Linked DNA regions of Homo sapiens. The protein of the gene in region 1 interacts with the protein of each later gene in a pairwise test. Each region holds a gene or a part of one and is shown in the gene's direction. Other genes may lie near its edges. The genes, in order: HEXB, UBQLN3, ZBTB16, XIAP, NUP43, CAPN15 and RWDD4.

Evidence for each region.
Region 2: the proteins of HEXB (region 1) and UBQLN3 interact in binary tests that used the Homo sapiens proteins (3 or more experiments, as listed by UniProt).
Region 3: the proteins of HEXB (region 1) and ZBTB16 interact in binary tests that used the Homo sapiens proteins (3 or more experiments, as listed by UniProt).
Region 4: the proteins of HEXB (region 1) and XIAP interact in binary tests that used the Homo sapiens proteins (3 or more experiments, as listed by UniProt).
Region 5: the proteins of HEXB (region 1) and NUP43 interact in binary tests that used the Homo sapiens proteins (3 or more experiments, as listed by UniProt).
Region 6: the proteins of HEXB (region 1) and CAPN15 interact in binary tests that used the Homo sapiens proteins (3 or more experiments, as listed by UniProt).
Region 7: the proteins of HEXB (region 1) and RWDD4 interact in binary tests that used the Homo sapiens proteins (3 or more experiments, as listed by UniProt).

Annotation. Positions count from the first base shown.
Region 1 is NC_000005.10:74,716,233-74,719,010, forward strand, and holds part of HEXB (beta-hexosaminidase subunit beta isoform 1 preproprotein), read left to right. Parts: intron 1-354; coding exon 355-441; intron 442-2,058; coding exon 2,059-2,131; intron 2,132-2,564; coding exon 2,565-2,739; intron 2,740-2,778. UniProt on the Homo sapiens protein: Hydrolyzes the non-reducing end N-acetyl-D-hexosamine and/or sulfated N-acetyl-D-hexosamine of glycoconjugates, such as the oligosaccharide moieties from proteins and neutral glycolipids, or from certain mucopolysaccharides.
Region 2 is NC_000011.10:5,507,158-5,511,344, reverse strand, and holds UBQLN3 (ubiquilin-3), read left to right. Parts: upstream 1-1,387; 5' UTR 1,388-1,471; intron 1,472-1,717; exon of another isoform or gene 1,718-1,750; 5' UTR 1,751-1,786; coding exon 1,787-3,754; 3' UTR 3,755-4,045; downstream 4,046-4,187.
Region 3 is NC_000011.10:114,241,211-114,244,710, forward strand, and holds part of ZBTB16 (zinc finger and BTB domain-containing protein 16), read left to right. Parts: intron 1-956; coding exon 957-1,127; intron 1,128-3,500. UniProt on the Homo sapiens protein: Acts as a transcriptional repressor. Transcriptional repression may be mediated through recruitment of histone deacetylases to target promoters. May play a role in myeloid maturation and in the development and/or maintenance of other differentiated tissues.
Region 4 is NC_000023.11:123,898,053-123,901,552, forward strand, and holds part of XIAP (E3 ubiquitin-protein ligase XIAP), read left to right. Parts: intron 1-2,440; coding exon 2,441-2,641; intron 2,642-3,500.
Region 5 is NC_000006.12:149,740,030-149,743,529, reverse strand, and holds part of NUP43 (nucleoporin Nup43), read left to right. Parts: intron 1-959; coding exon 960-1,140; intron 1,141-3,500. UniProt on the Homo sapiens protein: Component of the Nup107-160 subcomplex of the nuclear pore complex (NPC). The Nup107-160 subcomplex is required for the assembly of a functional NPC.
Region 6 is NC_000016.10:544,712-548,211, forward strand, and holds part of CAPN15 (calpain-15), read left to right. Parts: exon of another isoform or gene 1-1,926; coding exon of another isoform or gene 1,927-2,127; coding exon 2,128-3,500.
Region 7 is NC_000004.12:183,652,686-183,656,185, reverse strand, and holds part of RWDD4 (RWD domain-containing protein 4), read left to right. Parts: intron 1-211; exon of another isoform or gene 212-224; coding exon 225-305; intron 306-3,500.

The DNA of each region.
Region 1 (2,778 bases):
GGAGATTCAAAAAAAGACTACTGTGAAATGAGAACACCTTTAGTGAAAGAGGGCAATCAATGATTAAATAGGAAAGATTTTTCAAATAAAAATTCTCTCTGCAAATAGCTTTAGATGGAGGAGAAAGGTGGTAAGGTAAAGAAAGCCATTTTTAAAGGAAATCAGCTTCTTGAAAAAATTGTTTGCAATGGATAATTAAGATAACTTGTAATTAAGTTTTTAGGCTTCTTTTTACTACCTACAAACTTTAATAGTTTTAAGTCTGCACAACTGATGTTAGGCATGTATACTGCTCTAAATAATAAACTGAGCATATCAAACTTCTAATGAAATTTTAATCACTTTTTGCTTCAGGGAATCAAATCCAAAAATTCAAGATTTCATGAGGCAAAAAGGCTTTGGCACAGATTTTAAGAAACTAGAATCTTTCTACATTCAAAAGTAAGTTGTTTGAAAGCCTATTTCTGTATTAATGCTTTTTGTAAAAGTTTATTTAGTAATGTGCTTTATTTTTTACATTTTCTCTACATCCTTTGCCTAAGTGTAGATGTGAAAAATCACTAAAGGAGGCAATACCCACTGCTTGCTTTAAATCAGTAACATGGTGACTCCAAGTATTTTCCAATAGCTGTTGAAATATAGGAAGGCAGTCATCTGTTCTAAAAACTCAGATTGGGCTGGGCATGGTGGCTCACACCTGTAATCCCGGCACTTTGGGAGGCCGAGGCAGGTGGATCACCGGAGGCCAGGAGTTCGAGACCAGCCTGGCCAACATGGTGAAATCCCATCTCTACTAAAAATGAAAAAATTAGCCAGGCATGGTGGCAGGTGCCTGTAGTCCCAGCTACTCGGGCGGCTGAGGGAGAATCTCCTGGGAGATGGAGGTTACAGTGAGCTAAGATCGCACCACTGCACTCCAGCCTGGGCAACAGAGTGAGACTGTCTCAATCAATCAATCAATCAATCCATCAATAAATATAAAACTCAGCTTGAAGCCCTGGCTACCCTGTGAAGTCTTCACTACCATCCAGCCCCTGGAATTCATTCCATTTTGTCAATTCCAGGAACATATATTTTACTATATACCTGTGCTACCCAATACAGTAGCCATAGCCACAGGTGTCTGTCCATATGTAAATTAATTAAAATTAATGAAAGTTAAAAATTCAGCTACTCAGTTGCATTAGCCACATGTCAAGTGTTCAGTAGCCAGCTGAGGCTAGTGACTGCCATACTGAAAAATGCATATATATATATATATATACACATTTCCATCCCAGGAAGTTCTACTAGACCGTGCTGCTCTAGAGGGATTGGCAAACTTTTTCTGTAAAGGGTCAGAGAGTAAAGATTTTAGGCTTCATGGGCCACATACAATTGCCCATGGACCACATACAATTTTTTTTTAACTTAAAAAAAACCTCAAATTTTAAAACTTAAAAAAAAATGCTTTACAAATATAAAAACCATTCTTAGCCCATGAGACATACAAAAACAGCCTGCAAGCTGTAGTTGCCAACCCTTATGCTGTACCATTTATTTGGCAAGCCCAGATTCCAGCCTTTGCCTGTTCAGCTTTTTGTGTGATGCATTTAAGTGTTATTTATCTGCAGAGCACCTGGCATTATGTAAATATCTGTAAATATTTGTGGATTGTCAGTAACTGTTACATGTAATTTATGTGATATGACAGGCTAGATCGTGGTCCCTACCATTTTAAGACAGCCATAAAATTGTAAGAGATTGCTGTTTGTACAATTTCCTGAGTTGCCTACCAACTCAATTTGAGGCCACTTCTTCCTATCTTAGGGGCATGTTTAACTCATTCATTCAGCAAATGATTATTAAACCCCCATACTATGTTAGGTTCTGTATCAAGTGCTAAAAAGGAGGAACTACTTGTGACACTTCCCAACTTGAGCTGCTTCTGCTATAAAGCTGAACTATACTAAAAGGCACCTCTCAAAATGCAAGAAATCCTTGGTAGAAAATGTACATGTTTTAAATATATTGTTAAGCTTATGATCTAAAATAACTATAATTTTTTTGTAATACTAGGGTTTTGGATATTATTGCAACCATAAACAAGGGATCCATTGTCTGGCAGGAGGTTTTTGATGATAAAGCAAAGGTGAGCATTGTGAAGACTGCATCTGATCAATATAAGAGACTTAATTATTTTTCTTGGGGCAACTGGGAATTTGCAAGTCTAACTACTAGTATTACCTTTCTAGTGTAGTTAGTGACCACTTTGGACCTCATAGTTCCAAGCTAGGTTTGGTAGAAATAAGACTAAAATGCAAGTCTCAGCTTTAGTTAACTGAACCTATGTGGTATCCATATATAAGCAAAAGTTAAATATTCAAACCTAAGGTTGATGAAACTTTTAAGTCCCTAAAATGAGTATCACATGGCACTAACTCTGAAGAAAAGAGGAAAAAGAAAATGCAGATTTTTTTTAAGGATCTTAGAAAATTATGTTCCTAGTAATAATGCCTTAAACTTTCAATTTCATCTACTGTTCTAGGCCTAATAATATGTATTGCAATTTGTAACGTTAATAGCTTGCGCCGGGCACAATAGTTGAAGTATGGAAAGACAGCGCATATCCTGAGGAACTCAGTAGAGTCACAGCATCTGGCTTCCCTGTAATCCTTTCTGCTCCTTGGTACTTAGATTTGATTAGCTATGGACAAGATTGGAGGAAATACTATAAAGTGGAACCTCTTGATTTTGGCGGTAAGTGAAGCAGTTGGTCCAAGTGTTGTGGGTTACTGT
Region 2 (4,187 bases), on another chromosome or scaffold:
TGCTTATTTCAACAAGAAAGACAGTAATAATCAGAAGGGACTTCTACCTGTGTCTACCATGAAATCAACCAACTAGCTTACAACTGTCCCAATACACTCTGCCTCCCATTCATTCTGCTATCATGAATAAACTTCATATTCCTAAATCAAGCTCTCCACATAGGCACTTGCTCCCAATCTCTCTAACTTATCTATTCAAGAACTTAATAGTTTTCCCTTTCTCATGCATCAATTTTTTCTACTCACTGGATTGTTTCTATCAGAATATAAACATCATTACACTATTCTTAAGAAAAAAATCTAAAAAGCCTTTAACCCCACATCCCCACATAGCCGTCATCCCCTTTCTTGCATTTAAAATGCCCTAACTGGATCTACTTTTTCCCAAACCATTTGCTTTTAAACACACTCTGATTAGGCTTCCTGCCTCTACTATCCTTCCAAAGCTAGTCTCATCATGGTCTCCAATTCTTTATTTTTTCAAATCCAGTGGCCAATTCTCAATCCTCATCCTCCTGACCTAGCAGCATCATTTCACATGATTGGTTACTCTCTCCTTTTTGAAACTCTTCTTCCTTTGGCCTTTCTCTTTTCTCTCTCTTTTTTTCTACCTTACTCTTTTATTTTTTCTCCGTTTCCTTTGCCAAATTCTTCTGATCTTCCAGATTTCTAAATGTTATACAGCCACAAAACTCAGATTTTAAAATCTCTATCATTTTGCCTGTATGCACTAACTAGCTAATCTAAACCAGTCCATGATGTTAAGTACCCTTTGAATGCTAATAAACTCTGGACTTATAATATTAAACTACAATACTACATCTCCATTTGTATGTAAAATAGACATCTCAAATGTATGTAAAACTGTTTAACAACCTGCTAATTTAGACAAAGTGCTTATTCCCAATCTTTGTCTTAGTAAATATTCAATCCTTTGAGTTCCTTTGGGGATAACAATTTCTTTTAAAGTAAAAAAAAAGTTATCTCATGCTTGACTCCTCCCTTATACCCCAAATCCTATCCATCAGCGAATCAATACTTTGAAAATACGTAAAGAATTCATGGTTAATGTTGAATAAGACAGAAAACTGGGACATAGGATACCAGGAAGAAGACCCTGGACCAGGAAGTAGCTGAATGTGGGTCTGAATGGAGACAGAGAGGACTGAGAGATGTTTTATAACATTCCAATCCCAGTCTGAGCCTCCACAGAAGTCTCCACAGGAAGGCACTTGAGGTGGAGGAAGTAGAAGTGGTAAAAGATGGGAGAGCAAGAGTTCCCAGGGATCCCGAGCTCCTTAGAGAAGTCTCAAGAATCTTCTCTGTGTGAGGCTGTGACGTCAGCACTGAGGTCACAGAAGGGACCTGATAGTGCGGGTTCTGGCCCAGAAGGCCTCAGGGGTGGCTGTGTAGCAAGATGAGGGAGGTTTGGAGCCCTGCATAAAGAGAAGGACGGGACCACAGCTGACTGGTATGTACACCCCAGCTGGGCCCTTCCTTCTACCTTTGTCCCTGTATTCATCAACTACAGACCTCTTTCCCAGGGCCCTGCATTTCCCTCCCCTGATTCCAACATATCTCAATCCCGCAATCTTCCTAAAGCATCCTGCCCCAGAAACCTCATGGCCCCTTTCATGTAGACCCTGCAGATTTCCCTATCCTGATATTCAAGACCCTTTTCATACTCACCCTTCCTACTTTTGCCATTGCCTGAAAGGATGATCTTGGTCTCCAATCCCCATGCCCCTAGCTGTGTCCCCACAGATCTGGGCCTCCTGCTGCCACCATGGCCAAAGGTGGAGAAGCCCTGCCACAGGGCAGCCCAGCACCAGTCCAGGATCCCCACCTCATCAAGGTGACAGTGAAGACGCCCAAAGACAAGGAGGATTTCTCAGTTACAGACACATGCACTATCCAGCAGCTGAAGGAAGAGATATCTCAGCGCTTTAAGGCCCACCCCGATCAGCTTGTTCTAATCTTTGCTGGCAAAATCCTCAAGGATCCTGACTCACTGGCACAGTGTGGAGTGCGAGATGGCCTCACTGTCCACCTGGTCATCAAGAGGCAGCACCGTGCCATGGGCAATGAGTGCCCAGCTGCCTCTGTCCCTACCCAGGGCCCAAGTCCTGGATCACTCCCTCAGCCAAGCTCCATTTACCCAGCAGATGGGCCCCCTGCCTTTAGCTTAGGTCTCCTCACAGGCCTCAGTAGGCTGGGCTTGGCCTATCGTGGCTTCCCTGACCAGCCAAGCTCCCTGATGCGGCAGCATGTGTCTGTGCCTGAGTTTGTGACTCAGCTCATTGATGACCCCTTCATCCCGGGTCTGCTGTCCAACACAGGCCTAGTACGCCAGCTGGTTCTTGACAACCCCCATATGCAGCAGCTGATCCAGCACAACCCTGAGATTGGGCATATTCTTAACAACCCGGAAATTATGCGGCAGACACTGGAGTTTTTACGTAACCCTGCCATGATGCAGGAGATGATACGTAGCCAGGACCGGGTGCTCAGTAACTTGGAGAGCATTCCTGGTGGCTACAATGTGCTTTGCACTATGTACACAGATATTATGGACCCAATGCTTAACGCAGTCCAGGAGCAGTTTGGCGGCAATCCCTTTGCCACTGCCACTACTGATAATGCCACCACCACCACCAGCCAACCTTCAAGGATGGAGAATTGTGACCCTCTCCCCAACCCCTGGACTTCCACACATGGAGGCTCAGGTAGCAGGCAAGGAAGGCAGGATGGGGATCAGGATGCACCTGACATTAGAAATAGGTTTCCAAACTTTCTGGGTATTATAAGGCTCTATGACTATCTCCAGCAATTACACGAGAACCCCCAGTCCCTAGGAACTTATCTACAGGGGACTGCATCTGCCCTCAGCCAAAGCCAGGAACCACCACCATCAGTAAACAGAGTTCCCCCATCGTCACCCTCATCTCAGGAGCCTGGGTCAGGCCAGCCTCTCCCCGAGGAGTCAGTAGCAATCAAGGGAAGGTCCTCCTGCCCAGCTTTCCTGAGATACCCCACAGAGAACAGTACTGGACAAGGTGGAGACCAAGATGGTGCAGGGAAAAGCTCTACTGGACATAGCACAAACTTGCCTGATCTTGTCTCGGGGCTGGGAGATTCTGCCAACAGGGTTCCATTTGCTCCCTTATCTTTTTCCCCCACGGCAGCCATTCCTGGAATCCCTGAGCCTCCCTGGCTGCCATCCCCGGCTTATCCAAGATCTCTGAGGCCAGATGGCATGAATCCAGCTCCACAGTTACAGGATGAGATACAACCACAGCTGCCACTGCTGATGCACCTTCAGGCAGCCATGGCAAACCCCCGTGCCCTGCAAGCCCTGCGGCAGATTGAGCAGGGTCTACAGGTCCTAGCTACTGAAGCACCTCGCCTCCTACTCTGGTTCATGCCTTGCCTAGCAGGGACGGGTAGTGTGGCAGGAGGTATAGAGTCTAGAGAAGATCCCCTTATGTCTGAGGATCCTCTCCCAAATCCACCTCCTGAGGTGTTCCCAGCACTGGACTCTGCAGAGCTGGGCTTCCTTTCCCCTCCCTTTCTCCATATGCTGCAAGATTTAGTTAGTACAAATCCCCAGCAGCTGCAGCCTGAGGCTCACTTTCAGGTGCAGCTGGAGCAACTGCGGTCCATGGGCTTTCTGAATCGTGAAGCCAATCTTCAGGCCCTCATTGCTACGGGGGGCGACGTGGATGCTGCTGTGGAGAAGCTGAGACAGTCGTAGGAGCCTTATTCATTCAAACCATACGTTTTCCTCTGTGCCTTTTTCCCATATCCTAGTTCCCTAGCTCTCCCATTTTTGAATACAGCTGCATTATAAACCAAATTTACTATGAAGTCCTTTGCTGTGGAGGCAATGTTGTTCCAGAGTCAACGAGGAAGACTAATGGCCAAAACATAGTGGAGGTGCTGTGTGTGAGTCAACCACTTGTACCACTATACCACTGGGGGGCCCCAGTCTAAGCTCTGCTTATGCCTATCTTGAGATGCAATTACACCCAATTTCCAATGTGAACTCTTGCCTGAGTCTCATTCATGTGGGCTATGAGAAAAAGGATGGATATGGGAGAAGAAGTAGTGATAAGGGCTGTCTCTACATGGATGGAAGGACTTGGAGGGAAACTAAAAGGTCTGAAGTTAGAAGACTCACAGGTATG
Region 3 (3,500 bases), on another chromosome or scaffold:
CTTTAGTGAGTGGAGAAGTAGTTAAAAAAAAAAAACAAAACAGGATCTGTAGCTAGTCTTGGGAAAGCATTAAAATCTAGGGTGTGTGAGTGTGAACCCCAGCCCTGCCACTTACGAACTCTATGGCAGGAGTCCCCAACCCCCGGGCCATGGTCTGTGAGGAGCTGGGCTGCACAGCAGGAGGCGAGCGAGTGAAACTGAGCTCCGCCTCCTGTCATATTAGTGGCGACATTAGATTCTCACAGGAGCATGAACCCTATTGGGAACTGTGCATTCAAGGGATCCAGGCTGCACACTCCTTATGAGAGTCTAATGATAAATGTAATGTGCTTGAATCATCCCAAAGCCATCCCCCAACCATACGTGGAAAAATTGCCTTCCATGAAACCAGTCCCTTGTGCCAAAAATGTTGGGGACCACTGCTCTGTGGGATTTTGGCCAAAGTACTTAATCTCTCTGTGCCTCAGTCTCCTTGTCTAAGGGATGAGGATAACAGAGGCTAGCTTTTTGAGTTTTGGATTTATATTAGTTATGTTAGAACAATGGCTGGCCCATAGTATCTTTGTTATTGTTTTTTCTCGCAGGGTCTACCTTGCCTCCCCCACTTTTTGCCCTGTACTCTGTGAAGTCCATCTGGTATATGCTGTCTTAGTACCTTGCCGCCTTTTACATACCACCCGACACAGTTGCCCACTACCCTTGCTGCTGCGATGTATTTGATCAATGTCTATCCTTTAGCTTTAGCTTCCAGAGCTCGGGAACGACGTCGATTTTGCCCATCACTGGGGCCACATACTGGGTGCTCAGTGTTGCATAGCCTGGGCCCACTCTGGATTTGCCCCTGAGCATGGGGATTTGGAGGTGTGAGTCCCGACACTGGCTCTCACTCCAGATGGGTAAAGAATGCACCTTGTATTCCCACCTTTCTGAGGCACCCCCTCTCCTGTCTCCCACAGGCACTGACATGGCCGTCTTCTGTCTGCTGTGTGGGAAGCGCTTCCAGGCGCAGAGCGCACTGCAGCAGCACATGGAGGTCCACGCGGGCGTGCGCAGCTACATCTGCAGTGAGTGCAACCGCACCTTCCCCAGCCACACGGCTCTCAAACGCCACCTGCGCTCACATACAGGTAGGTCAGTCCAGCTGATGGGTGGATCTGGGTCTCTGGGAGCCAGCGTCTATATTTACCTCCAAGGACGTAAAGTGGAGGTGGTGGGCTGAGTCAGCCTTCAGTCCTTCTGCTCAAGGCTTGGACGTGCAGAGGCTGCCCGTCGTGCAGGTAAATGTGGACAGTTCTCCCAGTCCCCTCCTGTGGACCGTCGGTTCAAAGTCTTTCCGTGTTCAACACAGGATGCTCATTAAAAAGGCAGGCTCTTGGGTCCCACTCTCAGAACCTTTTATTCCATGGGTCCAGGGTGGGGTCCCAGATTCAGCATTATTAATATGTATTCCCAAGGGATTCTCATGTAGGTAGACCCAAAATGAATTTTGAGAAAAACTGACCTGCTGGGTCTCTTAACATTGTCTGCCCTGCCTCCCACCACTCTTGATGCCCCGCCGCTCTATCCATACACATTTCTGAAGTCAGCTTCGGGCTTCTGAGGGCAAGTTGAAGCAGTGATCCTACTTTCCCCACAGTAACAAAGGCCTGTACTTGGACCTTAACCCTGTTTAGGGAAGACAAGGAGGGCATTTAAACGATGAGCAATGAAATATCACTGCTCAGCCAGTTCCAGGTGATGGGACAAGGGAGGGGGTACAAGGTAAGGAGGCTGGGCCAGGTGCTGAGGGGCTGGCCATTCCCTGCCACCAGCCTCTAGGGCTTGAGGGATGGGGACACTTGGTCCCTGATGGCCAAGAGGCATTTGCTTTCCTGCAGCAGCTCCCAGTTTTCCCTAACAGGGGAGTGGATGGCTTAAATTCCTTATTTTCTCTATGACAAAACTGGGGCTCTGCTGAAACTACCTGGTTAAAGGAATGCCCATTTCTGAGTCTGCCTTTGTGTGCTGTGTTTGTAGGGAGGGTTGGGGTCAGGTCTCTATCTGGGTATATAACAGAGCGTATACTTGTAAAAACCTCTGCATGCCACGTAAAGGAACAGTAGGCCCTCTCCTCATTTTGAGAGTCTTGTCACAGCTCAGAGATTGAGTATGCAGACCAGGTCTTGCATGGGTGGCAGGCTCTGCTAAATAAGGGAAGAGCTTTACTTCTCATGGACTGAGCTGGCCTGGCCAGCCAGCAGCAGGTATCCTCATTAAGGAGCCTTCCTGGCTGTCACTTCTGGATGCCATTTTGTTCAGGGGAGCACATTGTCTTAGCATCACCAGATTTGCACAGAACTACTTAAAATTTCTGGGACAGGACGGAGGTAGGGCCCAGAGGGGTGGGCTCAATAAAAAGGGCCCAGGAGAGTGGGATGTTGACAAGGACTTTCTCTACAGCGATTGCGTAAGCATTTCCCCTGCAGCTATATGCACCTTCCTATGAACGCCTCCCTCAACAGTTCCCCAGGTTCATTCGGTCTTATGAAAGATGGCTAGATACCTTTCAGCCACTTCTGAGCATGCCACTGGGTCCAATCAGTTGGCTTCATGTGACTTGAATGATCTCAGTCCTGCTAAATCCACCCAGGATGTGCCCTGCTCTGACCATGCCACCTTCTCAGAGCTCAGATATGAAAATGTCACATGCTCTTGTGTCAGTCATGGCTCAGATCCACGGGGAGGGGCTGTTTCCAGAGTTAGGGAGAAGCCCTTGCTTATTCTAGGAAACACGGAGCATGTGTGCTGCCTATGCACACACAGAGAAACACCCATCAATTTTCACACCAGCGAGGCACTGCGCACACAAGCCATATACAGGCTGTGCACACCCCACACACAATGCCTCATTAATATTCCGTTGTTCTTGGCCCATTTGCTGCTGGGGCCGGGTGTTTAGCATCAGCAGCTGTGTTTGGTAGGTTAGTCCAGCCGTGCTCTTGGCATTGATGGATCCCTGATTCACACGGCTCATCATATAATAAACTCTCAGCTGTGCTGAAGGGAGGGGCTGGAAGGGAGGGGCCTGAGGAGCCAGCAGGATGGGGCTGGGGTGGGGAGGACGACAGACACTGGGCTTGGCCAGTGCCAGAGAAAGCACCAAGTAAGGACAGATTGGGGGGGGCGGGGTCACAGGTGCACTGGGCAGGCTGGAGGGGGCTCTAATTAGTCTCGTTTGTCCTGCACTTAATGTCAAGCTCATTAAAGAGGCTACAGAGTTAATCAACATACCACAAATTGGATTTTGAGTTCTGCAGCCAGTTTTGTGTACATTATGGCCACACTGACACAATCAGCTCTCAGGGTGAAGATTTCACGCCAGGTGCACACCGTGCTTCCAAATCGGGATGGGGATACGTGTGTGTTGGTGACTTTTTCTTTCTTTTTTTTTTGTTGTTGTTTGTTTTTCCTTCTAAGTTCTTTTTATTCTTTTCCCTGGGCAGACTCAAGAATTTCCTATT
Region 4 (3,500 bases), on another chromosome or scaffold:
AGACTGAATCTAATCCTGCACTTTTTTCTCCTGTATTGGTTAATAGTACCACAGTTCACAAGGTTGCCCAGTAATTTATGTTGTTCCTAAGCTCTTTGCTCTCTGTAATCCTTTTACATTTAATTAATCATCAAATTTGATGGATTCCACCTTTTTAATGTTGCTTCAGACTTTCCCACTTATTCTGCTCTAGTTCAGGCCCTTCCTTGTTTTTCAACTGGACAATTGTAGTAGTCTCCTAACTGGTCTTTTGTCTGTATTATAACCTGCCAACAGAGTTTTTCTTTTTGTTTGTTTGTTTTTGTTTGTTTTGTTTTTTTGTTTTTCTGAGACGGAGTCTCGCTCCGTCACCGAGGCTGGAGTGCAGTGGCGCGATCTCGGCTCACCGCAACCTCCACCTCCGGGGGTCACGCCATTCTCCTGCCTCAGCCTCCTGAGTAGCCGGGACTACAGGCGCCCACCACTATGCCCGGGTAATTTTTTTTTTTATTTTTTGGTATTTTTTGCAGAGACGGGGTTTTGAACTCCTAGGCTCAAGCGATCTGCCCGTCTTAGCCTCCCGAAATGCTGGGACTACAGACGTGGGCCACCATGCCCAGCCTTATCTTTTATTTTTATTTTTTAATATAGATAGGGTCACACTTTGTTGACCAGGGTGGTTTCAAACTCCAGGCCTCAAGGAATCCCCCTTGGCCTCCCCAAAGTGCTGGGATTACAGGTGTGAGCCACTGCACCCAGCCTCCTCTCTTTCAAAAAACATTTATTGAGCTATAATATACATACAGTAGCCGGGCGCAGTGGCTCACGCCTGTAATCCCAGCACTTTGGGAAGTTGAGGCAGGTGGATCACGAGGTCAGGAGTTCGAGAGCAGCCTGGCCAATATAGTGAAACCCCATCTCTACTAAATATACAAAAAAATTAGCCAGGCGTGGTGGTGCATGCCTGTAATCCCAGCTACTCGAGAGGCTGAGGCAAGAGAATTGCTTGAACCTGGGAGGTGGAGGTTGCAGTGAGCCGAGACGCGCCATTACACTCCGGCCTGGGTGACAGAGCGAGACTACGTCTCAAAAAAAAAAAAAAAAAAAAAAAAAATATATATATATATATATATATGATTTTATATATATATGATTTTATATATATATGATTGTGTATATATATATGATTTTGTATATATATATGATTTTGTATATATATATGATTTTGTATATATATGATTTTGTATATATATATGATTTTGTATATATATACACACGCACACATACACACATAAAGTGCTTAAAGTACCCTAATCGTAAGTTTTCTACTTGATGAATTTTAACATATATATGTTAAAATATATATTAAATATGTGTTAAATATATATTAAAATGTATATGTTAAAATATATATATTTATCTGTGTGACTATCCCCCAGATTAAGATATAGAACATTCCCACAACCCTAGAAAGTTCTTTCATGCTCCTTCCCCATCAGTACCCACCCCCAAGTTATATTCTGGCTTCTATTACCATAGATTAATTTTGTTTATTACCATAGATTAGTTTTGAAGTTCTTATAAATGGACTCATGCAGTAGGTACTCTTTTGTGTCATAATGATGAATTATGATTATGTTTTGCTCATTATATCTATGAGATCCATCCATATTGTCTGTGGCAATAGTTTTTTTTTTTTTTCTTGCTGTGTAGCGTATGAATATACCACAATTTATGTATCTGTTCACCTGATGATGGACATTTGAGTTGTTTCCAGTTTGGGGCTATTATAAATAACACTACTATGAATACTCTTGTGCATATCTTTGGCAGAGATATACACTCATTTTTAATACCCAAGAGTGGAATTGATGAGTCAGAGGGTATAAGTGTCCTCTCCTAGCACTTCCCTACACATGCTGTGTTCCTACTTTAAGTATCATAAAAACAAGTTTCCATTGACTTTCTTGCTTTATTCAGTCCTACCCGCTCTGCTACAGAAACGAAGTTTGAGAGCTAGGAAATTGACACATTCAAGGTTATAGACTGGGACTTCCCTGATTTCCCATCATTTTCCCCAAATAATTGCTAGTGACTCAGTAACAACATCCACTCTTTAAGTAACTTAGGTTAATTGTTAATGAGTACAGCTAGATTCAAAACAGTTCAGATTTTTGAAGCACTTAACCTTTTTCTTGCCTATTTTACCTTGCATCGTTTCAAACACTACAAAATACATACTCATTGCATTTACAATTAATTGTAAGATTCTGAAAGTGATTTTTCAGTGCCTGAATACTTCAAAAAATCTTCCCAAAGCAGCTTTGCTTTGCTGGTTTGTTTTTATTCTTTCGCTTGCTCCTTAATTTTTTCATTTTAACTATATTTTGCTATTGAGTTGTGATAATGAAAATAATTGTTTAAATTCTATGTTCTTTTTCCTCACCAATTTTTATTTCAGATGATACCATCTTCCAAAATCCTATGGTACAAGAAGCTATACGAATGGGGTTCAGTTTCAAGGACATTAAGAAAATAATGGAGGAAAAAATTCAGATATCTGGGAGCAACTATAAATCACTTGAGGTTCTGGTTGCAGATCTAGTGAATGCTCAGAAAGACAGTATGCAAGATGAGTCAAGTCAGACTTCATTACAGAAAGGTATGCATTGCTGTTTTTAAAAAGCAAGAAAGGGCCAGATGTGGTGGCTCATACCTGTAATCCCAGCACTTTGGGAGGCTGGGACAGGTGGATATGGACATTTTTTAAACGTAACCTTAATGCTGTGTGTTAGTCTGCTCAAGCTGCTATAATAAAATTCCATAGACTAGGTGTCTTAAACAACAGACTTATTTCTGACAGTTTTGGAGGCTCCAAAATCAAGGTGCTGGCTGATTTGGTTATTGATGAGGGCCCTCTTCCTACCTTGCAGATGGCTGCCTTCTCACTGTGTCCTCACATGGCATGGGTTGGGATTGGATGGGACAAGATGGAGCAAGTACTCTGGTCTCTTTTCCTCTACTTTTAGGAACACTAATCCCATCATGGGGGGGTCTCATCTTCATGACCTCATCTAAACCTAATTACTTCCCAAAGGCCTCATTTCCAAATATCATTACATTAATCATGGAAAAAAGATTAAAAATATGAGTTCTACCAGCCTGGACAACATAATGAAACTGTCTCTACAAAAAATACAAAAATTAGCCGGGCATGGTGGTGTGTGCCTGTAGTCCCAGCTCCTTGGGAGGCTGAGCGGGGAAGATCACCTGAGCCAGGGAGGTCAAGGCTGCAGTGAGCCATGATCATGCCACTACACTTCGGCCTGGGCAACTGAGCAAGATCTTGTCTCAAAATATATGTATCTCTCCTTTAAGGATGATGGACACTGTAGTGCTTGCCAACAACATCGAAGGTTAAAGAAGAAGTTTCAAACTGAGTACACTTTTGGGTACTTTACCTGTAATAGTTCTCTAAGCTCTTGACCATCCTCCCTCCAAAAAGATGAGAATTCTCCTAC
Region 5 (3,500 bases), on another chromosome or scaffold:
TCCACCTTCTGAGTTCAAGTGATTCTCCTGCCTCAGCCTCCCAAGTAGCTGGGATTACAGGCACGTGCCACCACGCCCGGCTAATTTTATATTTTTAGTAGAGACGGGGTTTCTCCATGTTGGTCAGGCTGATCTCACCTGACCTCAGGTGATCAGCCCTCTTCGGCCTCCCAAAGTGCTGGGATTACAGGTGTGAGCCACCGCGCCCAGCCAAAGGTAACCTTTTCTAATAGACATGCCTAGTTAATATAAGTCCCAGTTCATGTTAAGGGTTTTTTTGAGTCATTTAGAAAAAGCTATAGAGATTAATATTTTATTTATTTTATTTTATTTTATTTATTTATTTTTTTTTTTGAGACAGAGTCTCTCTCTGTCACCCAGGCTGGAGTGCAGTGGTGCGATCTCTGCTCACTGCAACCTGCATCTCTCTGGTTCAAGCAATTCTCACACCTCAGCCTTTCAAGTAGCTGGGATTACAGGCGCGTGCCACCACACCTAGCAAATTTTTGTATTTTTAGTAGAGACGGGATTTTGCCATATTGGCCAGGCTGGTCTCGAACCCCTGATCTCAGATGATCTGCCTGCCTTGGCCTCCCAAAGTGCTAGGATTACAGGCATGAGCGACAGCCGTGGGCCAGATATGTATATTTTAGATGTAGGTTAATTCCCATAAGAATACAAAGAGTTGCCTTTGAACATCCAACTGCTTGATCCCTAAAAGTCATTACTGTAGTTTGAGATAAATGTGGGGCATTATTAAACAATATTCCTTTTGTATCTAATTCAGTGTATATAGAACTTTGATGGCAGTAGTTTCTAGATTTCATTATTCTAAAGGAAAAAGGAGAGATTTATTCTTGTAGAAGGGTGTGAGTCAGAATTTAAAGATACTCTTGTTGGGAAGAAGTGCTAATTCCTTAGTACTTTGCTTTAATAGTATCCTCATTTCTGATGCCTAGACTCTGTCAGTCAACCAGCAGTGGACTACAGCTCACTACCACACAGGCCCTGGCAGTCCTTCCTATAGCAGTGCACCATGTACAGGTGTTGTGTGCAACAACCCAGAAATCGTTACAGTTGGAGAGGATGGTCGAATAAATCTCTTCAGAGCTGATCACAAGGAAGCTGTAAGAACCATAGGTAAGAAAAATCCCAGCCTGGCCAACATGGCGAAACCTAGTCTCTTCTAAAAATACAAAAGTTAGGCTGGGTGTGGTGGCTCACCCCGGCAATTGCAGCACTTTGGGAGGCCGAGGCAGGTGGATCACCTGAGGTCGGGAGTCCGAGACCAGCCTGACCAACATGGAGAAACACCGTCTCTACTAAAACTACAGAATTTGCTGGGCATGGTGGCACATGCCTGTAATCCCAGCTACTTGGGAGGCTGAGGCAGGAGAATCGCTTGAACCTGGGAGGCGGAGGTTGCAGTGAGCAGAGATCGCACCATTGCACTCCAGCCAGGGCAACAAAAGTGAAACTCTGTTTAAAAAAAAAAAAAGAAAAGTTAGCCAGGCGTGGTGGCGCATGCCTGTAATCCCAGCTACTCAGGAGGCTGAGGCAGGAGAATCGCTTGAACCTGAGAGGTGGAGGTTGTGGTGAGCTATGATGGCACTCTGCAGTCCCACCTGGGTGACAGAGGGAGACCCTGTTTCAAAAAAAGAAAAATCATTGTACTCCTTTCATCCATCAGAGTAATTGAGCACTTACCATATACTAAGTAAATACTGCCAGGCACGGTGGCTCATGCCTGTTACCCCAGCACTTTGGGAGGGTGATGCAGGCGGATCACAAGGTCAAGCGATCAAGATCATCCTGGCCAACGTGGTGAAAATCCGTCTCTACTGAAAATAACAAAAATAAGCTGGGTGAGGTGGTGTGCATCTGTAGTCCCAGCTACTCGGGAGGCTGAGGCAGGAGAATCACTTAAACCCGGGAGGCAGAGGTTGCAGTGAGCCAAGATTACACCACTGCACGCTAGCCTTGTGACAGAGAGAGACTTCATCTAAAAAAAAAAAGTAAACACAATGTTAAGTGATGGAGGGATGTAAAAATATATGGCCGGGTACAGTGGCTGACGCCTATAATCCCAGCACCTTAGGAGGCAAAGGCGAGCAGATCATTTGAGGCCAAGAGTTTGAGACCAGCCTGACCAATATTGCAAAACCCCATCTCTACTAAAAATACAAAAATTAGCTGGGCATGGTGGCACAGGCCTGTAATCCCAGCTGCTTGGGAGGCTGAGGCATGAGAATCGCTTGAACCTGAGAGACTGAGAGGCTGCAGTGAGCCGAGATCATGCCACCGCACTCCAGCCTGGGTGACAGAGCAAGACTCTGTCTCAAAAAAATATAAAATATATGTACACATGTGCACACACAACGCAAGGCAGGATCCCTTTGTCAAGACAGTATGTTGATGAGACCAGTATGAATGACTGACTAGAGGAAACAGAAACCTTTTTTTTTTTGGTGAGAGGGCATTATCAGATAAAACATCTGGAAGCAGGTAGTAATTAATAGTTTTTCTAGGTTCTAGACCATAAGTAATACTAAAAGATGGCGTGCTAGACAAAGGGAATAGGCCAGAGGCAGGATAAAGACATTCAGAGAATGACAAAAAGTATAGTTTGACCCGACTTTAGATATTTATTTAGGAGAGATGAAAGATGAAGCAAGAGAGAAGTAAGCTGGGGCCAGATTGCAAAGAGTCTGTAATGCAAAATCACAGAAGTTACATCTTTTAGGTGGAAAACTAAGTGTATTGGTTCTGAACTATGCTTCAGCCAGACTTCTCTGAGGAAATTTTTTAACTGTCGACCACTCTAGACCTTTTAAATCAGAATCTCTAGGAATTGAGCCCATGAATCCATTTTGTATGTGTGTGTTTTGTTTGTTTGTTTGTTTAGATGGAGTCACGCTCTGTCACCAGGCTGGAGTGCAATGGCACGACCTCAGCTCACTGCAACCTCCACCTCCTGGGTTCACGCGATTCTCCAGCCTCAGCCTCCCGAGGAGCTGGGACTACAGGCGCACGCCACCACACCCACCTAATTTTTGTATTTTTAGTAGAGACAGGCTTTCAACATGTTGGCCAGGATGGTCTTGATTTCTTGACTTTGTCATTCGCCTGCCTCGGCCTCCCAAAGTGCTGGGATTACAGGCGTGAGCCACTGTACCTGGCCTTTTGTGTTGTTTATTATGATTTTCATTTCTGAGTTAAGTTGCATTACTTTTTTTTTTTTTTTTTTTTTTTTTGAGACAGGGTCTTGCTCTGTCACCCAGGCTGGAGTGCAGTGGCATGATCCCAGCTCATTGCAACCTCTGCCTCCCAGGTTCAAGCGATCCTCCCACCTCAGCCTTCCAGGGATGTGGGACTACAGATGCACACCACCATGCCCAGCTAATTTTTGTAGAAACGAGGTTTCACCATGTTGCCCAGGCTGGTGTCAAACTCCTGGGCTCAAGTGGTCTGCCCACCTCGGCCTCCCGAAGTGCTGAGAT
Region 6 (3,500 bases), on another chromosome or scaffold:
CCCACGTCGCCTCCCCCACGTCGCCTCCCCCACGTCGTCGCCTCCCCCACGTCGCCTCCCCCACGTCGTCTCCCCCACGTCGTCGTCTCCCCCACGTCGCCTCCCCCACGTCGCCTCCCCCACGTCGCCTCCCCCACGTCGCCTCCCCCACGTCGCCTCCCCTCACGTCGTCGTCTCCCCCCACGTCGTCGTCTCCCCTCACGTCGTCTGCCCTGAGCCCGCTCCCTTCGAAGGTAACCATCCTGCAGTAGTGAGGGCTCCTTGCTGAGCACGTGTGGCTGCGACTTCAGGAGCGTTCTGGGTTGAGAATTCCAAAAGGGCTTCGCTCAGGCCTGGCTTTGGGTCTTTGGGCTCCTGACGCGAGCTTTTACTTCCAGGCTTTGGCGGTCTGGCCTCAGGAGGTCAAGGCTGCAGTGAGCCGTGCGCGAGCCACTGCACCATCCTGGGCAATCAGACCCCATCTCTAAAGTTCAAAACAACATCTTTGTAAGGGTTTCGGGTCTCTGAGCCCATGAACCTGCCCAGGCCCTGCAGAGGTGAGGGTGGCCCTAGAGTGGCTGGGGGGTTGTGGAGACCAGAACCAGGGCAGAAGGGCAGGGAGGGTGGGGGCCCTGCCGAGGTCTCCCACCGCTGACCCCTGACCCCTGGCCCCCTTCCACCTCGGCCCACCGAGAGAGGCCGGCACAGCGCAGACTGCGGGGTCAGTGACACTCCCCTCAGCGTCTCCAGCCACAGAAGGGCCGTGGCCTGCCTTCGCCCTCCTCACCCGTGTCCCGGGGCCACGTTTGAACTTTAGGCCTTGTTCTGACTTCATTGAAACCCTCCTGAAGTGCAGACGTCTTCCTGACCCACCTGGGTTTTGCCAGGATGACTCCGAAAGGTGTCTCCCAGCAGACACACCCCGCTGGCGATTGTTTGGTCCTGGGGACCCGGGTTCTCATTCTCCTCTCTGGAGCTGGTGAGGCTGTCCTTGCTAGTCGGTGACAACTACAGGGCCAAAGGGAGGGTGTGTCCCAGGAGGCCCAGCCCACCTCTGCCTGCACCTGCGGTCAGCGGGGTGCAGAGTCTGTGAAGGCACCTCCCGGAGTGGGGGCTGCAAAGATCATGGCCACTGTGCCACCCACAGGGGCCCAGGCCGGACGCCTGGGCTGTGCCGCCTCGGCAGCCAGGCCGAGGAACGTGCAGGTGCGGCCGGGAGCCCGCCGGCCACAGCTGCATCCATGCCCTTCTCCGAGTGGTGATGGCGGGGAGAGGCCTGGCTGTCTACGGGCAGATTGCTTGGGCTTTCACAGAAGCCCGCTGTTAGAGCAGATTCCCGGCCTTGGGTCTCTCTGCTCCAGCTGGACGCCCTGAGCCTCGCCGGGCCCAGTCCACCCCCGTCCACTCTGCCAGGGGCAGCTCAGAGCCCTCGCCACGCGGGGCTGAGCGCAGGGAAGGCAGCATCACGGAGTTCGCTCGGCTCCACAGAACACCCGTGTTGCTCGCGGAGACTTTTTGTTTTTGTGCTTCTTATGAAGAGGCAGGTTTTCTTTCTTCCTGAACCAAAAGGGTTTAGATGGAGCACAAGATTCAGGCCATATTTACAAGAACAATTGATTTTTCTGCCAGGCAGAGCAGCCAGTCTGTCTCGGAGGCTGTGCTGTGGTGTGGGGAGGCCCCTTGCTCAGATCAGCCTGTGCCTTCCCCAGGCCCCGGCCCATGCACCTGCCCTTCCGTAGGTCTGAGCACCTGTTCTTCCACGCCCAGGACGACCTGGTCCTGAGTTTGGCCGGGACCCCCTGCTATCTGCCGTCCACAGGCCTGGTGACAGAGAAAGCAGTGCCCTGGAACAGCAGCCCGGCTGTGGGGTGCTCAGCCCTCTCTGTAGGATCCTGTGTGGCTCAAGGGGTCTGCTGAGCCTCCAACGGGCAAGAGGGGCCCTGAGCCATGGATCCATTCTGGGTGGAGGCAGCCCCCACCGCCGCCTGCCTCAAATGCTCAGCCCTAGGCCCTCGGCCCCGTAGCTCTGCAGCCACAGACGGGTGCCTTCCCCAGGCCGAGAGGAGGGTGGGGTCCAGCCACTCAGGACCTCACAGGGTGGCCCTGATGAGCACCTTCCCTTGCAGCCACACCCACTCGCCCGGGTCTATGGCCACGGTCGGAGAGTGGTCCTGTGTGCGCTGCACCTTCCTGAACCCGGCCGGCCAGCGCCAGTGCTCCATCTGCGAGGCTCCCCGGCACAAGCCCGACCTCAACCACATCCTGCGGCTCAGCGTGGAGGAGCAGAAATGGCCCTGCGCCCGCTGCACCTTCCGCAACTTCCTGGGCAAGGAGGCCTGCGAGGTGTGCGGCTTCACCCCGGAGCCTGCGCCTGGGGCTGCCTTCCTGCCAGTCCTCAACGGGGTCCTCCCCAAGCCACCCGCCATCCTGGGGGAGCCCAAGGGCAGCTGCCAGGAGGAAGCAGGTCCAGTGAGGACTGCGGGGCTGGTGGCCACGGAGCCCGCCAGGGGGCAGTGCGAGGACAAGGACGAGGAGGAGAAGGAGGAGCAGGAGGAGGAGGAGGGAGCGGCGGAGCCCAGAGGGGGCTGGGCGTGTCCGCGTTGCACGCTGCACAACACGCCCGTGGCCAGCTCCTGCTCCGTCTGCGGGGGCCCACGCAGGCTCTCGCTGCCACGGATCCCTCCTGAGGCCCTGGTGGTCCCGGAAGTGGTGGCCCCGGCCGGCTTCCACGTCGTGCCTGCCGCGCCTCCACCTGGCCTCCCCGGGGAAGGTGCCGAGGCCAACCCCCCAGCCACCAGCCAGGGCCCAGCTGCCGAACCAGAGCCGCCCAGGGTCCCGCCCTTCAGCCCCTTCTCGTCCACCCTGCAGAACAACCCCGTGCCGCGCAGCCGACGCGAGGTTCCCCCCCAGCTGCAGCCACCGGTGCCTGAGGCTGCCCAGCCGTCACCCTCTGCCGGCTGCAGGGGAGCCCCCCAGGGCTCGGGCTGGGCTGGGGCCTCCCGCCTAGCAGAGTTGCTGTCTGGCAAGCGGCTGAGTGTGCTGGAGGAAGAGGCCACGGAGGGTGGCACCAGCCGCGTAGAGGCCGGCAGCTCCACCTCGGGCAGTGACATCATTGACCTGGCCGGAGACACCGTGCGTTACACGCCCGCCAGCCCCTCCAGCCCCGACTTCACCACCTGGTCATGTGCCAAGTGCACGCTCAGAAACCCCACAGTGGCCCCCAGGTGCTCGGCCTGCGGCTGCTCCAAACTGCACGGCTTCCAGGAGCATGGCGAGCCCCCCACCCACTGCCCCGACTGTGGGGCCGACAAGCCCAGCCCCTGCGGCAGAAGCTGCGGACGGGTGTCCTCGGCCCAGAAGGCCGCCCGCGTCCTGCCCGAGCGCCCGGGCCAGTGGGCCTGCCCTGCCTGTACCCTGCTCAACGCACTGCGGGCCAAGCACTGCGCCGCCTGCCACACGCCTCAGCTCCTGGTGGCCCAGCGGCGGGGGGCCGCGCCCCTGAGGCGCAGGGAGAGCATGCA
Region 7 (3,500 bases), on another chromosome or scaffold:
CATTGTACAGTGCTTAGTAGTCCCTGACACAGAGTTTGAAAGTAAGTATCATTGGTAGTAATATTGTCATGTGTTGCTGCATGCACCTATGTGGTAAGTATCTAAGGTTATATAAGTTAGTCAAGCTTTTACATAGTTGAGTGGGCTTGAATGAGAAAGTAAAGACCCTCTATTTCTAATTCATTTATACCACTAAACAAAACTCATTCAGTTCTTTATTTCAGATGGAACTAGAAGCATTACGCTCTATTTATGAAGGAGATGAAAGTTTCCGGGAATTAAGTCCAGTTTCTTTTCAATATAGGGTAAGACATGGCATGAATAAGAGCACTTAGAACTTTTCTAGAAAAGACTGAAAGTGGCTAAAAATGCTTATTTTGTTTTTTAAACTTGTTTAAATTTATTATGTCTGTATTTTCTGTAGCATTTAAATGGAAACATCACCCTAACATCAGTCATTTTTAACGTTTGAAAACTTAATTCAGAAGCTTAAAAAACCAAGATAAACTTGTTTTTATTGTACCAGAATCATAAGATACTAGAAATGGAAAAAACCTTAAAAATTATTTAATCTTATCTTTAACATAAAATAGTAACAGTAGGGCTGGGCGCGGTGGCTCTCACCTGTAATCCCAGCACTTTGGGAGGCCAAGGTGGGCGGATCACGAGGTCAGGAGATCGAGACCATCCTGGCCAACATGGTGAAACCCCACTGTCTCTACTAAAAATACAAAAAATTAGCCGGGCATGGTGGCGGGCGCCTGTAGTCCCAGCTACTCGGGAGGCTGAGGCAGGAGAATGGCGTGAACCCGGGAGGCAGAGCTTGCAGTGAGCCGAGATCAAGCCACTGCGACAGAGCGAGACTCTGTCTCAAAAAAAAAATAGTAACAGTATTTTATTTTGTAAATAAGTCATATAAACCTTTTATTCAAATGATTATAAGTAGGCGGGGCACAGTGGCTCACACCTTTAATCCCAGAACTTTGAGAGGCCGAGGCAGGCGGATCACCTCAAGTCTGGAGTTCTAGACCAGCCTGGCCAACAAGGTGAAACCCTGTCTCTACTAAAAATACAAAAATTAGCCACGCATGATGGTGCATGCCTGTAGTCCCAGCTACTTGGGAGGCTGAGGCAGGAGAATCACTTGAACCCAGGAGGCGGAGGTTCCAGTGAGCAGAGATTGTGCCACTGCACTCCAGTCTGGGCGACAGAGCGGGACTCAAAAAAAAAAACAAAAAAAACACACAAATAATTATAAGTAGCGGAATGGGGAAGTTTTTTTTGTAAAAGATTTACAGTTATTATTAACATTGTCACAGTTTAAACTATTAGAAATGATTCTTATGCATGATCGATGGATGACCATCACAGAAAATAAGTTTCTGTTCTCAATTCCCTTTCAAGCTTAACAGTCCTTACACCATCTCCAAGTATGTAATAACCATGGACCTCAAATGTCCAAAGTTAACAGTGGAGCTAAGTCCTAGGCCCTTCGGTTTGAATCCAGTTGCTACTCTCTCCTTAGCAAATGGGAGGTCGAGAATTTCCCTATACTCTCCTAAATATCTCATTCACAATGGCAGTGATTTAGAGCATGTTGTGCAGAATGCCCTAGGACATTTATATGTACTATAAGATGGACACTGACGTGACCCATAGGATGGATTTAAGAAGAATGATACATGAGATTAGGAGACAGTGTGTTGATAGTCAAAGGGCCAGGGGTAAAGTTCTTCCTGTGGCCTGAGTCACACCCCTCAGTTCTTGCACGGAATAGTCTGGTAGCCTCCTAGTTGACTTCCCCGGTTTAATACTTTCTTTAGCTTCCCCCTTATACTCCACCATGAGTCCTCCAACAGTACTAGTTGGCACTCTGAAGCATTTAAGTTGTCATCCCATTCTCTTCTTTAAAAATGTTTTTCTCTGGGTTCCTCTTGCCTATAAAATGAGGACGAAATTTTTTCACTTGACACTCCAAATCCTTCTGTTTGTTTCTGTCTCCAAACTTTCCCCTCCACTCACATGCCTTAGACATAATGGGTTGTGACATTTCCCCCCGTGTATTTTTTTCTAGTACTATGCTTTTGCACACATTGTTTGATCTTTCTCTCACCTCAGGTCCATTATTCCCCTGCCTCTCCTTTAAGGCCTAACTCAGGCCTTCTCTGTGATACATTAATATTTGGGCCATGTCTCCTGTCTCTGCTCTGACTTTGAATCAGAATTAGCCGTTCCCCATTTCTTCATACTTTGTTTTGTTACTTTTGAACTATTATTCATATTGCAGTTTTGTAAGTTATATAAATATCTGTCTGAAGACAGGAATAGCCTTGTCTCTATCTTTGTATCTTCGGTACCCAGCACAGTGTGAGGCATGTGATAATTTATTCCTAAATGCGCCATGAGTAAGGACGTAGTGATTGCATCAAGCAGGTAACTTTTATCACTTTTTATCATCTATATTTAAACATAAACCAATGACATCTATTATGCAGATAATCCTTATCCAGGTCTATCAGTAGATCCCTACATTTATTTTAATAACAATACAGAGGAGATTAGCATAGCCCTGTGTAAGGATGAGATGTTGATTCATGTATCATTCCACCGTTTTACTAGAAGATCACCATTTTGCAACCACCAGTATGATAATTGATTCAGTTACAGTTAAGGACTGTTAATGAAGGCTAAAACCTTTGGGTGAAAGGTTGTTGAGAAACAAGGTATTCATACAGTTTTGTAGTGTTGCCCCACAGACGATGATGATTTTTTTTTTTTTAATAGAGACAGGGTCTTGCTGTGTTGCCCAGGCTGGTCTCTAACTCCTGGCCTCAAGTCATCCTCCCACCTCACCTTCTCAAAGAGCTGGGATTACAGACATGAGCCACCTCACCCAGCGAGATTATTCCTTAATTACAAAATGAAAAGGTTTGTGTTGAAGAGATCTGGAGAAGATCACCTAAACCATGTGATCAATCTTAGTGTCACCAGTGATGATTCTGGAAGATCTTCTGTGCCTCCTTATATGATGCTATGGGAAGATGCCACATCACCTCTGTAGTTTTCTTACCAAAAATGTTTAATTTGAATCAGTTCAGATCTGGGGACATTATACAAGAAAACTAGCCTGTATTCTTTTTGGCTTAAAAGGCAGGGGAAGCCAGTCACAGTGGCTCATGCCTATCTATAATCCCAGCACTTTGGGAGGCTGAGGCAGGAAGATCACTTGAGCTCAGGAGTTCGAGACCAGCCTGGGCAACATAGGAAGACCTTGTCTCTACAGAAAGTTTTTTAAAGTCTGGCATGGGGCACACGCCTGTAGCTCCAGCTACTTGAGTGGCTGAGGTGGGAGGATTTCTTTCTTTTTTTTTTTTTTTGAGATGGAGTCTTGCTCTGTTGCCAGGCTGTAGTGCAGTGGCACTATCTCGGCTCACTGCAACCTCTGCCTACCAGATTCAAGCGATTCTCCTGCCTCAGCCTCCTGAGCAGCTGGGACTACA